Homo sapiens: one gene and its partner. The protein of the gene in region 2 interacts with the protein of the main gene of each other region in a pairwise test. Each region holds a gene or a part of one and is shown on either strand. Other genes may lie near its edges.

Evidence for each region. Proteins that work in one complex are often made in the same cells at the same time.
Region 1: the proteins of HEMGN (region 2) and PTPRJ interact in a two-hybrid assay, tested with the Homo sapiens proteins (one large-scale study listed by BioGRID and IntAct).

What each region holds. Positions count from the first base shown.
Region 1 is NC_000011.10:48,123,497-48,127,150, reverse strand, and holds part of PTPRJ (receptor-type tyrosine-protein phosphatase eta isoform 1 precursor), read right to left. Parts: intron 3,539-3,654; coding exon 3,281-3,538; intron 2,184-3,280; coding exon 1,965-2,183; intron 1-1,964. UniProt on the Homo sapiens protein: Tyrosine phosphatase which dephosphorylates or contributes to the dephosphorylation of CTNND1, FLT3, PDGFRB, MET, KDR, LYN, SRC, MAPK1, MAPK3, EGFR, TJP1, OCLN, PIK3R1 and PIK3R2. Plays a role in cell adhesion, migration, proliferation and differentiation.
Region 2 is NC_000009.12:97,935,982-97,939,735, reverse strand, and holds the start of HEMGN (hemogen), read left to right. Parts: upstream 1-1,563; 5' UTR 1,564-1,599; coding exon 1,600-1,678; intron 1,679-3,471; coding exon 3,472-3,565; intron 3,566-3,754. UniProt on the Homo sapiens protein: Regulates the proliferation and differentiation of hematopoietic cells. Overexpression block the TPA-induced megakaryocytic differentiation in the K562 cell model. May also prevent cell apoptosis through the activation of the nuclear factor-kappa B (NF-kB).

The DNA.
Region 1 (3,654 bases), on a different chromosome or scaffold from region 2:
GGTCTTGCCACATGGGCTGTGACCGGGTTCCACTATGAGCCAATGGGCAGGCCCCTGAAGGGCCACAGGAGAAAGGAGTCAGTGCCTTCCTCCATCACCTCCTGCTCTGGGCCTCCTGTCCTGACACAGCTGTGTCCACCACTGCCCCAGCTCTCACTGGGCTCCAGAAACACCCTGTCCTCCTCTAGCCCTTCAGCCCTAGAGGTGGCTTTCTGTCGTGTCTTGGGTGCCTCAACAATGTCCTCTGATGGTTTCCTTAACCCTGCCCCACCTAACTAGTCACTTGAAAAGTGCAGGGTGCTCTGGGGTGGGTGGAAATGTGTGTTTATCTGTGTGTGTGTGTGTGTGTGTGTGTGTGTGTGTGTGTGTGTGTGTTGCAACAGACTGAATGTTTCTGTCCCCATAAAATTCCTATGTTGAAATTGTAACCCCTGATGTGATGCTTTTAGGAGGCGGGGCTTTTGGGAGGTAATTAGATCATGAATTACCTCCCTCCTGAATGGTATTAGTGCCCTTATCAAAAAGGCTGGAGAGAAACCACGCCCTCACCCCTTCAACCACGTGAAGACCCAGGGAGTCTGCAACCTGGAAGAGGAAGAGGGTGTTTCACCCGGAGCCCAGGCATGCTGCACCCCAGTCTCAGACTTCCAGCCTCCAGAACCCTGAGAAATAAATGTTCATTGTTTACGCCATCTAGTGCATGGCCATTTGTTACAGCAGCCCAAACTGACTAAGACTTATCTATACACACACACTCGCCCCTTATAGAGAGGGAAAGGCTACTATAATGATTATTTACCAAGCATGAAGACAGTTCAACCCAAAGCAGGATGTGTGTGAATTCACACCACCAAGAGCCTGAGATGTAATCACTACTACTTTGCTTTTGCTCAAACTGCTTTAAAAAGCAGGGACCCCAGGCCCACACAAATCTACAAGTCCTTTTAGCAAATCAGTCAAAGGGACCTTCCCCTGGCTGGACCCAGCCCTGGGTGCATGGCTTGACGCAGGGCACACAGACCAGATTTCAGCCCCTTTCACTCTCTCACGCAAGCTTACCATGTGCAGGACACCCCACCACTGCCAACCGCACCCACATAGGAGCCCCTTCCTCCTCCTCCAACTAACCCACCCTCTGGAATCCAAGCCCTCCTCACCCGAGAGCCTCCCACCTGCCACTCCTGCCAGGTCACTGCAGGCCCCATGAGGTCAGGCAGCCTGTCCTACGGCCGCATCCTCCCCACCCACTCCCACATTAGCAAAACAAGTACAAAGGGAAGGAAGGACACAAATGGACCCTCCTTCAACATGGATACCAGGAAAAACTGTCATTCCTTACAGAATGGCTTCTCACCAATGTCTTGCCAAAACTTCTAGCCCTGTACAAGTAACACAGCCTGGCCAGTAACTACCTCTAAGTATTCCCAAATGTGTTCACCTCCCGCTCTTTTCACCAAAGCCTCCAAATATTGGTGAACTTACAGAGTGAAAGTGCTGATAAATTATAGCGAGGAAGCAGCAATGTGCATGTCAACAAGCATTTCAACAGAAAGATCGGTATGAATTACAAGGCGGGTGAAAAAATGAAACTCACTTTCATAACTTTCTTAACTCAAAGCAAAGGAAAAACAAGCAATGATTATTTGTTTTTAAGAGGAAAGTATGATGCCAGTTTGTCTCATCAGCCACCACGCAAAGCTGTGAAAGATGGCGTGAGGCAGTGCCTGGTGCCCGCACACAGGGGCTGCTCCATGTATTTGATTTCACTTAATGAGAGATGTGCACTGCCCATGGAGTTAAGAAGAAACTGAGCAGATCTGCTCTGTCCAAAATCTCCTCCAGGAAGCTCCCTCTGACATCAAAACTAGCTGTTATGCAAGAAATCACTCAGAATCAGAATCACAGGAGACAGAACATTGTGCTAGGAAACTCTGGCTGCCACCATTTTACAAAGTTCAACCTACTTGTCCTGAACTCTATGGCCTGGGGCTGTCCTTCTGTGCCATTCGCTGCTTGGGAATAAACGGTGGCATTGTATCGGGTGCCAGGCTCTAACCCGACAAGCAGGACTTCCGTGTCTCGGGACTGCTGGCCGGAGGATGGGTCCACAGGTCCCACGAGGGACTCATCATGCACAGGGGCGGTGGGGCTCCCTGCCCGGCTTCTCTCTGTATTGCTGGCATCTGTTTCAAGCACAGGAGACAAAAAGACATCAACCACAAGAGGGACACATCCCCCATTTTCCTTCGGAGCCCCAACCCCATCAGATGGCCATCAGACAGTGGCCACAGTTGGTGCTCCATCAATATCTGCTCCCTTCCTCCTCCAGAGAGAGAGGCAGCCCCATAAAAAGGCCTGATAGCTCCATCTCCATTTGTACTGTTATTCCAGTAGCACCACAGATATCTGGTGCTTCTCTTTCAAACTCTGCTTATTTCAGGTCATTCTCCCTTCTTTGGGTTGTTATCTTCTCCTGTCCCAGCATGGATTTCCAGGGACAGCTCTGTGAAGCAGACTTTGCTAATCAGACCCCACTCAAGACACGTTTCCCTGGACCAGACCCTGGTTGGTGGGGCAGCTGGCTGGTGGGGCAGCTGCAGGGTGTGAAACAGGAGCAGCTGGGCTCCTTAAGTGTGCAGAGGGAGCTGCTCTGAGAATGAAGCTGATGAACAGAAAGAAGCAAGAGGGAGGGATGAGAATTGCCTCATCTCTTTCTCTAAGGCCTCCCGCTAGCAGGAAAATCCACATGAGCCAATAAATTGTTCCTTCTGTCTGAGCTATCCAAAGTCTGGTTTCTGTCACTCGCAAGCAAGGATCCTGACACCCACTCTGTAGCTCTGTTTTCTTAAGTATAAAATGCAGATTAAGTGCCTGTCCTCCTCATGGAGTTATCCTGGGGATCCTCTGCAAATGCTATGAAACCTGCAAATGACAACGCCAACATCAACCAGCAGACGTGATAAGTTCCTCTGAAGGCCCAACTTGGGTTGACACAGCTGTTAGATAGAAAGCTAAAGGGGCCTCTAACTTTCCTGGGTGCCAGACTCTAAAAAGTTTCAATTCCTATTGCTGTTCTCAGCCCCAATGTGTTCCCCTGTAAAATCAGAACACGTTTCCTTCCTTCCTCATGCAGGTGGGGGATCAAACTAAAATGTGGAGGAAAAGCCCTTTATAAATTCTAAATCTCCATACACATGGAAGAGCAATTTATTTTTTAGAACATTTAGTTACTGAAAGTAAGAACCAGTAAGGGAGACGGAAGGTACCCTTTGTAACTCACCCAAGCCACCTTCTGTGCCCAAGGGGTCTCCCTTTGTCTTATTTGATTGTAGAAGATACGGGTTGATGTTGTATTGAACCCCTGGCTTCAGGCCCGAGATATTGACCTGAAGTCTTGAGTCTTGAGTCAACTCCTCATGGCTTCCAATGCTTTCAAGAAGAACCCGGCAGGAGGCAGTGCCATTGCCATTGCTCCAGGAGAGAGCAGCCTTCCTCACACCCGTGAGGGCAACACGGAGATCAGAAACTGGGATCGGCTCTATTTTAAAAATACAACATGCATTAATGGAACAAGATATATGCAGTCACCTTCATTAAGAATGACTGGGGTTCAGTGCTGGGAGCGGGTTTTAAAAGAAAAAAAGAAAGAATGAC
Region 2 (3,754 bases):
ATCATTCTCGATACCCTTTAGTGTGTTTGACAGCTTGTTTCTCTAATATATTTACATGATACACACATTTTTATACCCAGGAAAGATCAAGCACACAAAATGATGACCCATCTCCTAATCTGTAAGAGATGCTGCTGGCAATAAGTAATAAAATACTAAGTATAGGTAACTCTCCTCCTCGGTTCTCAGTTTCTTTGTATACAAAATAGGCAGGGACTAGATGATTTTGGGCTCTTCCAGTTCTAATGCCTTAAGACTCCATGGAAGTAGTGGGTATCTATTCACATTACAAAGGTCTTTCTTTATAAAGAATCCTCTTCAGATTCTCTCTTTAGTGCATTTAAACTATGACTTGCTTTACCAAAATCTGGTTACTGTATTTTTATTGGTAGCTAACATTTACTGACCAAGTTCAATATGCTAGGCACACATAAAATGCCTCATATGGATTACTGGACTTAATCATCCCAGTAACTTTCTGAGGTAGATACCAATATTGTCCCCATGTTATAGATAGGTAAATTGACTCCAAGGCTATCTAACCTGCCTCAGGTCACTGAATTAGGGAATGTCAACACTGGAATTCAAACTCACTTCAATTCAATCTGAATCCAGAACACATATATTAATCCTGCATCTCCCAGACTGGCTTCCTGTATCAGGAGGTGCTCAGGGTTTCTTCTTTAGTTGAACCATAGTAGTCTGTGGCTCCTTGTCTTCACAAATGGGGTTACTGCTTGGAGATAGGATGGTTCCTTTGATTATTTCAACTTAATTTCTGGGATATAATGTGGTGATATTTTCATTAAGAAGTAATTTTTCACCTTCCCCTATATGAGTAACAATGGATTTCACTAGTTATCTTGAGTCACTTGCGAATGATTTGGTGAGCCAAAAAGGGTACAAAATTGCTGTGAAATTCTAATTTGGTTCTTTATGTCTATTTCTTAACTAAGTCTAACAGCATACACAGCAAAACTGTACATTATTTTGCAACAGATTAAGGTGAAAAAAGCTACATACAGGAAACCATGTAAGATTAATATATATCACACTTTCTAGAAACTTTTATATCTATTATTTTCACTTTCACAAGAACCGTATGAAGTAGGCAAGACAGGAATTATTTACCCATTTTGCAAATGCAGAGAGTCATAGAAAAGGGAGGTGACTTGCCCTGGGCCACTGAGCTGGTTGGGGCCTAGATTGTGTTCTTTCTACACTAGGCTACCTCCATCTGTAAAAAGGAACATCGGATCCAGACACTTCCTGGCAGATAGAACCAAAAGAGTGCTGACTAGAGGCTGTGCCATGCCAGGCTGTGGTCAGAGAGTTTCCCTGTATAAATAGCAACCTATGCTAGGGGTTGCTAGCACCAGCCATTTCCCCTACTCACACCTGTGCAGTGTGATAAAGATAGTAGAATTAGCCTGCAGTTGTGGTCCAACCAGATAAAACTTTTAGGCGGGAAGTCAAGTGACAGGCAAACTTGTGTGTGTGGTTTTTTTTTTTAAGTGTTAGATGTTTTTGATATTTTAAAAAAGCATCTAGGCTGCTTGTGGAAGTCAGACCAAAATAGCAGGAAGGTATTGCAGCAAGATGGATTTGGGAAAGGACCAATCTCATTTGAAGCACCATCAGACACCTGACCCTCATCAAGAAGAGAACCATTCTCCAGGTAATGAAAAATACCTTAAGAGCTGGTGGCTGTTGAGAAGAATTCGGGGTATGATAATTTTCTCTTTTCAATGGATCTGGCCAAAAAAAAAAAAAAAGGAAATAAATGAAAGCTAATGAGACTAGTTCATCCAATAATTTCATTCGATGGCTGTGGTAAAACAAGTGGATTCATACATTTCTATGGCAGCACAAATTTGGTCTAACGTTTGGAAAGAGATCTGGCAATAAGTGGTGAGAGCTATAATACTGCTTATTCTTTTGACTCACTAATCTCAGTCCTTGGATCTATCCTAAAGCAACATTTCTCAAAATGTTTTGTGGAAACTTAGGCCTTGAGATACCTTAAGACATTGTTTTAAATTTTTTTTGCTACATGGATCTCTTTGGCATTCTGATGAACCCAGAGACTCCTTCTTTGAATAAAATTTTTAAAGGCATAAAATTAAATATATAAGACTAGAAAGGGAATAATTACATTAAGATACAAATATCAAAATAAAAAATTATTATATAGTAATATATATGATTATTTATAGATTACAATATCCAGTGGTGGGTCTAATAATAGTATCAAGTCAAATAAGTCATAGCCAGTAGGTGATATTTTAAGGTATCTGCAACAACTATAATGTGATAAAAAAATATGTGATTTCTTTATAGGGACCAAGTCATATGCTGAGGGGGAGGGAGAGCATCAGGAAGAATAGATAATAGATGCTGGGCTTAATACCTAGGTGATGGGATGATCTGCACAGCAAACCACCATGGCACATGTATACCTATGTAACAAACCTGCATATCCTGCACATGAACCCCTGAACTTAAAATAAAAGTTGAAAAAAAAGTCATATACTGCCAAAACTACTGTGGTTTGTTATCTACATTCATAATTGAAGGAACTGTCAATTTTAATTAGAGGTTGGTAAAAATAAAGATATAATTTTTCCTATTAAGAACCCTTATCCCAAGAACAAGAGGCACCATGGTTCAAGGGGCATGCTCTATTCTTTAGAGGTCCCAGTGTGGATTTGTATCACTTCACAGGCTCTAGGAAGCTCTGCATCAAAGACTCATCAATTTTTCTCAACCTTAGACAGCAGCAGAAACTTTTTTGATCAAACCCTTAATTTTCCAAAGAACTTGAAAAAACACCGTTCTAAGGAAAAAATACCAAAGAAAAGCTATATGCAATGAATATGCTTATTATAATTTGATATACAAGGCAAAGATAACTAGCAACAATCTAAATGCTCAATCCAAGAGGAATGATTGGGTAAATGAGAGTACATCAACTAGACTATGTATCACATTGTCATTAAAATTATCATTATGAAGACTACGTCATGGAAAATAGTTCTAATATAACGCTAGCTTAATAAAAAGATTAAAATTGTGGTATGCTATTCTTACAACTTTGTGTAATATAAAGACTGGATAGAAGTGAGGAATAAAATGAAAACAAGTTATCATGTTAAAGACAGCAAAATATGGCTACTTTTTTCATTATTTGTACAATATATAAAATTACTTTGAAGAAATTAATAGGTTGGTAGCACACTTATGTACAAATACTATGTAGGAGTAGGTCTCTGACCTTTTCATTCAAAAACATTTGCTGAATGTCTGCTTCCAGGCTTTCTCTGGAGATACAAGGATAAATGAGATGCAGTCCTTGTCCTCAAAAAGCTAGGAGAAAAACCTAGAACAGAGACTCTGCCACTTGGCTACAGGACTTTTGCTGATAGACACCACAGTTCATCACTTTTTCTAATCACTTTCATTTTATTACAGAAGTCATTGGAACCTGGAGTTTGAGAAACAGAGAACTACTTAGAAAAAGAAAAGCTGAAGTGCATGAAAAGGAAACATCACAATGGCTATTTGGGTATGGTAGCATCACAAGGGAAAGGGAACTAATATATTTATTGAGGATGTTATGCATAAAGTAGTGCTGTGCACTTTACACACTGTATTTTATCTTTCCAACAATCCTGTAAATCAGACATGGTTATCCCTATTTTACAGAAAAACAGAGACTAAGCCTCCAGTGAGTTACACCTCTTGCCTAAAGTCA